3 separate regions of the Homo sapiens genome follow, and all the other regions are linked to region 1. Evidence: fine-mapped expression QTL. A gene starts in region 1. Each other region holds a variant in brackets. All regions are shown on one strand. Distances are between the middles of the regions. Region 1 holds the start of TBKBP1 (TBK1 binding protein 1). Region 2 overlaps WNT3 (Wnt family member 3). Region 3 has its middle 19 kb from the start of TBX21.

What was found.
Region 2: its variant is fine-mapped to the expression of TBKBP1 in sigmoid colon (GTEx, PIP 0.99).
Region 3: its variant is fine-mapped to the expression of TBKBP1 in sun-exposed skin (GTEx, PIP 0.90).

The regions. Positions count from the first base shown.
Region 1 is chr17:47,692,847-47,695,346 of GRCh38, forward strand. TBKBP1 (TBK1 binding protein 1) reads left to right here and starts at 1,315. Exons shown (of 10, transcript NM_001394755.1): 1 at 1,315-1,348. RefSeq lists enhancers at 1,070-1,750, 1,751-2,430, 2,431-2,500 and silencers at 1,534-1,663, 1,914-1,973.
Region 2 is chr17:46,787,440-46,789,939 of GRCh38, forward strand. The region is part of intron 1 of WNT3 (Wnt family member 3); the gene reads right to left. It also overlaps a transcript of LRRC37A2 not described here. Among named protein-coding and RNA genes, the nearest start is that of WNT3, 30 kb to the right of the region's middle. The variant C/T (reference allele first, on the strand shown) is at 972.
Region 3 is chr17:47,750,455-47,753,297 of GRCh38, forward strand. No RefSeq gene overlaps it. Among named protein-coding and RNA genes, the nearest start is that of TBX21, 19 kb to the left of the region's middle. The variant A/C (reference allele first, on the strand shown) is at 1,374.

The DNA of each region.
Region 1 (2,500 bases):
CTCCCAGCAGTGAGGAAAGATGGCAGCTGCTGCTTTTCAAAGCTCAGAGAGAGCAAGAAACCTTTTCCTTCCATCCTCCCCCTCGGAGATTCCCACCCCCATCCCACCTCAGGAGCCAAAAAGGTAGGCTCAGGTTCCCAGCAGTCTTCGCAGCTAAGGCTGAATCTGCCAAAAGCCCCCGCCCAGCTTATCCCCTGCTTCCGGGCTTTGCCTCCCTGTCCACAGAGGATGCTCTTCAGCCAGAGTGCTCCAGGGTTCCCCTGATCATTCTCTACCTGCAGCTAGGCTGACCATGCCTCTGTCCACATTATTTAATCCACCAGGCAATACTCAAAATGACATCGTTAACACTTCCTGAGCATTCGCAGGCTGCTGTATTTAGTTCTGATCCCCATTCTTCCTCCATGAGAGTGCTTAGGTGGGGCATGATCTCCAGCTTAGAAAGGTTAAGGTAACTTGCCCAAGGTCACACAGCAGGAAAGTAGCAAAAAACTTGTTTCTCTTGCCCAGCAGTTTGGCAGGTGCTCAAATAATCTTTGTGCACAGGGTGACATCTGTTGTTTCTTCATTTCCCTGACCTGTGGGTACTTGAGGGTGGCCGGGGAGTGGTGTGTGGGGAGGGAGATGGCTGTCCTTCTTCATGAATGAATCTTTGACCTCCTTAGTTTACTCTCACTTCCAAAGAAGTTACAGCTTTAATCTCTCTGTACCCTATGTTCAATGTATTTATCGCAGCAATGCCCCTTTTACCAAGAGCAACGAAGAGCAGGTCTAATGATTTCCTTCTCAAAAGCGCAAAGACCAAAAAAAAAAAAAAAAAGCCAGATAAATAGCCCCACTTCCTCCCCAAATATACAGCCCATAACTAAACAACCAAAACAACCAAAGCATCAGCCGGGCCCCTGCACTGACCGCAGACGCCCCCAACACACGCCACCACGCCACACTGCGCCGGGAGGCGTCGGGGAGGGGGCGCCAGCGCGGGCCGCTGGCGCCGCAGGGAGCCGGTGGGCTCCGGGCGCGCTGCCAGGAAGGGCCGCACCGTAGGGGCCGCCGCCTCTCGCCACGTGGTGGTGGCAGCGGCGGGGTCCGGGGCGCCTTCCCAGCTGGAGAAACCCGGAGCAGCCGGGGAGGAGGAGGCGGAGGAGGCGGCGGCGGCGGAGGAGGAGCGGGGCGGACGGGAGGGAGGGGGTTGGGGGGAGGGGTGGGGGGTGGGGAGAGACCCGGCGGCGGCGACAGGGCGAGGAGCAGAGCGCGGTACCAGGGGGGTGGGGGCACTGGTGCCCGTTTGGGGAGGGAGCAGGCGGAGGGGGTAAGCTGCGATTACAAGCAGGAACCGGCAGCAGCTGTGAGTCCCCGGCTGGGGCTAGGGCTGGGGGAGGGGAGCGGCGCCCGGGCTGGGCCCCAGGGGTCGCGGGGTGGGCAGGAGGAGGCGGCAGGAGGGCGGCTGGCAGCCGCACGGGATGGCTGGGAGGGAAGGGGTCCGGTGTCGGCCGCCCTCATCCCCTCGCGTCCCCCTCCGCCGCCGTTCCTCAGGCCGCGCCACTCCCGGAGCCCCTTCCCCGGCCCCGAGAGGGTGTCCGGGGGCCCAGGGCTCGGCCGGTTGTGGGGGAGGGGGCTGCGTGGTCTCGGCCCCCGAGAGGGGAGGGGCGACAATTTCTGTCGGCCGAGCGAAAGGGGTTTAAAGGGCGGCTCTTAAAGGGGCCGCAGGAGGGGCCCGGGCCGACAGAGGCACTCACCCCTTCCCCAGCCGCCTTCCATTGCGCTCACCCGGGCGCTGGGCCCAGAGAGGAATGCGGAGGAAGGAGGCATTTGTGGTGCGGCCTCGGGGACAGAGCCCCGCCAGCGGGGTGGGCGCAGAGGGGCGGGCGGGGGTCTGGGGGGGTGTGGTAAGCGCTGGCGCGCGGAGCTGGGGGGAGGGGATGGCGTGGGAAGGAGAGGGTTAAAGGTGGGGCCGGCCCTACAAACGCGCGCACACACTCCTTACTCAGACCCAGTCACTCGCGTTTCCCTGGCACTTAGATGGGCCTGTGGGTGGCGGAGGGGGGGGGGTGGATTGAATTGGAGCCTGCGCCGGAGCCCTTTGCACCCCAAGCTCCTGCAGCCCGACCTGGGGGCCCCGCTGTCTGAACTCACAGCTCCCTGCCGAGCCCCCTCTCCGGGGTGCACATAACGCTCCAGCGCGCGCACACACCTCGGACAGTCCCCTCGCGTCTCACGTGACACGCGGCCCGGACGTGCCACCCTGCCCACGCGCTCACGCACGCGTGCACACACCAGCCTCCTGGTCGCTGCCCCACTCCGTCCCGACGCCCCTGCGACCCCGAAGGCACTCATTGACTGACACACCTACACTCATTCACAGACGCACACTCCCCCCATACGCCAACCCCAGACACACATTCATAACCAGGCCCGAGAGAAGTACACACGCACCCCCTCACTGCCTACTCCTGCTTTCGGGAGCCTGAGTCATTCCTGCCCCCTCGTAGGGTTCCCC
Region 2 (2,500 bases), 910 kb before region 1:
CAGCTCCTTGGGGAAATTAAGGCCCAGGGAAGCGATGTGCCTTCCCTGCTGTTCCTCCACTGGTTGGAGGCAGTGCAGAGAGCACAGCCCAGGCCTGCTGACTCCCAGCCAGAGCTTGTCTCTCTCATAGCACGCAGATCGTTCTTGAAGTGCCCCAGACCTGATCATCTGAAGGCTGGGCCTCATTCAGTACCTGCATACTATGTGCCCAAGATGTATGAGATGTAGCCTCGGCCGGGCGCGGTGGCTCACGCCTGTATTCCCGGCACTTTGGGAGGCCAAGGCAGGCAGATCAACTGAAGTCAGGAGTTCGAGACCAGCCTGGCCAACATGGCGAAACGCCTGTCTCTACTAAAAACAGAAAAAATTAACCAGGCGTGGTGGTGGGCACCTGTAATCACAGCTACCCTGGAGGCTGAGACAGGAGAATCGCTTGAACCTGGGAGGCAGAGGTTTCAGTGAGCCGAGATTGTGCCACTGCACTCCAGCCTGGGCAACAGAGTGAGACTCTGCCTCAGAAAAAAAAAAAAAAAAAAGATGTAGCCTCCACCCTCCTCAGTGACCCCACCTCAGTGCAGGTGACCAGTCAGTTGCAGAGTGTGAGAAGTCCCACTTGGGACTTCAAGGAATAGGTGTGCTGAGGGGAAGGAAGTGGGAGAAGGCAAAGAAGTCCCCTTCAAAGAGGTGACATTCGAGCTGGGCCTTGAAGTTGAGCTCAGCTTGGCCAGCTTTTCCTCCTGGAGCTTGGCCATCTGTTTCTTTGCCTCCCACTCCACTAAGTGGAATTCTAATTCAAATTTTTCCTAAGCCATGTTTGCATCTTTAGTTCATTTTAACCTTGTAACATTTCTCCCCTTCCTGACCCCTCCAAACCCTAAGTCAGTCTCCCATTTTACAGATTGGGAAATGAGAACCTTACAGAGTTAGGCTGCCGTTCTGAGCAGCCAAGTCTGCTGGTTCCCACACCAGGA[C/T]TTTGCTGGGTCCCCACATTGCTATACCCTTCAAGCCAGTTCTGGTAAAAGACAAGACATAGCCTGCCCAGCCCTCTTGTTCGCTTCTGACTCCAGACTTCTATTCATCCCTCAAGGTCCCATGTTTAAATCCCCTTTTAATGTCTCCAATTCAAATTGTTCCCTCTGGCCATTTCCCCAGCTCTTATACATCCGTCACAGGTAACCTTCAATGCACTCAAGTGAATTGTCCACCGACTCCATTGATGGTGAGTTTTTTGAGAGGAGGGATTCTTTCACTCGTTTCCATGTAGAATCTAGCACCTGCTTCAGCAGGTGCAGTGGCCCTGCGAGGACCTCCCTGCGAGGACCTCCCTGCCTCCTTTCCCTGCCCTCAGCAGCCCCACTGAGTGCCCAGTCCTTTCCTTCGTCTCTCCCAGATCCCACAGGCTGTCTCCACGGCGAGCTGAGGGCAGGTGATGGCCATGGCCCTGCTGGCTCTCTGGGCCTTTTAACACAGCTGCTAGCTCCACAGTTTGGGAGTCCTTTGTTTGAATCTTAGAAGCAGCCCAGTGGGGAACACACAAAGCTGTGCTGCTTGGCTGGGAGCTCACTCTTAGAGCAGCTCCCCAGGGCTCCTCAGAGAGCCACCAGCCTGGTGTGTGTCTTTATTCAATAAACATTCACGCTGGGCCAGGCCTTATGCTGGACGCCGGGAGCACAGTGCGTGGGGCACTCCTGGTCTTGCAAGGACTCTTACCTGAACCTGGAGCTGCCCTGAGGAAGCCCATTCTCCTCTTTATGGGGGCCCAGAGGCCACCCTCCCTGCCTCACACCTGATAGCACTGGCCACCAGGGCTGGCACCTACCTGGACTGTCCCATCCACTCTCTTATTCTATGCTCTTCAGAAAACCAAGGACAGTCCCTGACCAGCTGGCTACTGGGGTCAGGGATGCAGGCTATACACTACGGCAGATCACTTGGGGTGGTTTTGAAAAATACAGACACCCAGGCTCCAACACCAGCGTGGCAGGATCAGAGCCTCTGGGGAGGAGTCCAGGAAACTGGATCATTAAAAGCCTCCACCAGAAGTGTGACAGTAGAATGGTATGAGATGATGCAGCAGGAAGGCCCCAACCTTCCCTATGATGTTCTTTGGCCAAAGACGTTTAATCTGATCTAACCAAGCTTTGAGAGGTAACCTCTCAGGGAACACAAGGGACAGAGGAACAAACCAAATGACACCATGGGGAAGCAACTGGACAAATTCAGAGCAGGGTTTGAACCCAGGGCCTTGCCAGCTGGAGTACTAAACCATGGCTGGGCACTTTGAGGCCACAGTGCACTGGACACTGCCCAGGGCTCCAGCTTGGACCTCCAGCTGGGCCTGGCCCTGGCCCTAAAGCCAGCAGTGGCAGATGCGCACGCAGGAGGCAGCTGCAGGTTGGGAGGCCTCACGGGGGATGCTGCGACCACACCCAGGTGCTCAGGGCAACGATTCCACTCTCTACCTTTCAAGGTGGGTATTTCCACCACATTCCCAGGAGGG
Region 3 (2,843 bases), 58 kb after region 1:
ATTTGAAAAAATGAGAGTTTTAGCCGGGCATGACGGCGGGCGCCTGTAGTCCCAGCTACTCAGGAGGCTGAGGCAGGAGAATGGCATGAACCCGGGAGGCGGAGCTTGCAGTGAGCCAAGATCGCACCGCTGCACTACAGCCTGGGTGACAGAGCGAGACTCTGTCTCAAAAAAAAAAAAAAAGAGAGTAAAAAAAATGAGAGTTTTATTTCCTTGTTTCTAATCATTATGCTTCTAATTTATTTTCCTTATCTTATTCGACTGGTCATAACCTCAAGTGCTGGTTTTTTGTCTTTTGGGGGATGGTTTCTTTCACTATTTTTTGACCCCACCTCTGATGGGGTCTCACTCCGTCACTCAGGTTGGAGTACAATGGTGTGATCATAGCTCACTGCAGCATTGAACTTCTGGGTTCAAGTGATGCTTCTGCCTCAGCCTCCCAAATAGCTAGGACTACAGATGTGCACATTATGAAGCCTAGCTAATTAAAATTTTTTTTTTTTTTTTTTTTTTTGTAGAAACAGGGCCTAGTTATATTGTCCAGGCTGCTCTTGAACTCTTGGCTTCAAGTGATCCTCCTGCATTGGCCTCCCAAAGCACTGGGATTAGAAGAGTGAGCTGCCATGCTCAGCTCAGTTTTCCCCTATTTATTACACTTTTTTTTCCTTTTACTTGTTTGCATTTCTATAATTTATTTATTTTAGTGGCTTATCTATACATTTTAATAAGTATATTTAATAATGAATGATGTTTTATCCTCCCTTCTCGTCAGTAAGATAATTTTAGATCACTTTAATTCTGATCTTCCTCCTTCTGACTTACTGTTCCTCCTTCTGACTTACTAATAAAAACTTACTTCCTTCTTCTGACTTATTGATAACTCTTATATTATCATTTTAGTAGCCATTCTAATAACCTTTTTTCATTCATGTTTTTCTCCTCTCAACTTACTCATTTCAGTTCTTTCTTTTTTTAACCCCTAAAAATTAGACTCCTTTATTATTTTATTGAGACTATGCTTTGTCTGGACTTACCTTTATGTTACCATTCTTTTTGTTCATTTTCCCTTTTTTGCATTTCTCTTTTTTGGGGGATCATTTACCTATATCTTTAAATCCTTTATAAGTTCTTTTAGAGAAGTTCTCTTTGTAAACTTCCCCTGGGCTTGTTTCTTATAAATGTTATCATTTTCCCTATTGGTATTGAGTGATTGTTTTGCTGAATACACAATTTTGGGTGAATAGTATTTTATTTATTTATTTATTTTTTTTTTTGAGGTGAAGTCGTACTCATTGTGTCACCCAGGTTGAAGTGCAGTGGCACGATCTCGGCTCACTGCAACCTCTGCCTCCCAGGTTCAAGTGATTCTCCTG[A/C]CTCAGCCTCCTGAGTAGCTGGGATTACAGGCATCCACCACCATGTCTGGCTAATTTTTTTTATTTTTTTTTTTATTTTTAGTAGAGATGGGGTTTCACCATGTTGGCCAGGCTGGTCTTGAACTCCCGACCTCAAGTGATCTGCTCGCCTTGGCCTCCTGAAGTGCTGGGATTACAGGCATGAGCCACTGCACCCAGCCTTTTCTTATCATTTTATATGAGTAATTCCACTGTCTTCTGGCTTCATTGTTGTGAGATCTGCTGCTATTCTAATTATCATTCTTTGTTAGGTCTTCTGTGTTTTTTCTCTGCTTTCCAGATCTTCTATTTATATTCATGCCCTAAAGATTCACTACGATGTGAGAAGGCATGATTTTATTTTTCCTTATCCTATTTGGGATACATTGTGTTTCATGGATCTTTGCATTCATCATTTTCATGAGCTCTGAAAATTCTCAGTCATCATCTCTTTAAATATTGCTTCTTTCTATTCTCTCCAATTTCATCCTTTAGGACTCCAATCAGATGGGTGTCTTTTTTTTTTTTTTTTTTGACAGGGTCTGGCTCTGTTGCCCAGGCTGGAGTGCGGTGGCACTTTCTTGGCTCACTGCAACCTCCACCTCCTGGGCTTAAGCCATCCTCCCACCTCAACCTCCTGAGTAGCTGGGACTACAGGCATGCACGACCATACCTAGCTAATTAAAAGAAATTTTTTGTGTGTGTGTGGAGACAGGGTCTCGCTATGTTGCCTAGGTTGGTCTTAAACTCTGGGCTCAAGCGATCTTCCCACTTTGGTTTCCCAAAGTGCTGGGATTACAGGTGTGAACCATGTTTATCCTTATAATTGCATTATTTGTTTTTGTAAACATTCTATACCTAGCTATTCTGTATTTTCAACATCTGCTGTCCTTGTAGGGGGTGATGATAGGGTTGTTGTCTAAATCTGTTGTTTCTTCTGATTCTCAATGATAGTGGGTTTGCCTTCTTCCTTGCTTGGTGGTCTTCTTTCTTTGTTTATTAAATTTTGCTAAAGAAAATCTTCAAGGAGTCTTTAGGCAATAACACTTCTGAGTATTTAACATGTCTTTATTTTACTTACACATGTGAGTGATAGCTTGACCCAGTATAAAAGTCTAGGTTGAAATCACTTTCTCTCAGAATTTTTTTTCTTAAAGACCAGTATGATAGTACTCTCAGATTTTTTTTTTTCCTGAGATGGAGTCTCAGTCGCTCTGTTGCCCAGGCAAGAGTGCAATGGTGCCCTCTCGGCTCACTGCAACCACTGCCTCCTGGGTTCAAGTGATTCTCCTGCCTCAGCCACTGGAGTAGCTGGGATTAGAGGTGTACGCCACCACGCCTGGCTAATTTTTATATTTTTAGTAGAGATGCGGTTTCACCATGCTGGCCAGGCTGGTCTCGAACTCCTGGCTTCAAGTGACCCACCTGCCTTGGCCTCCCAGAGTGCTGGGA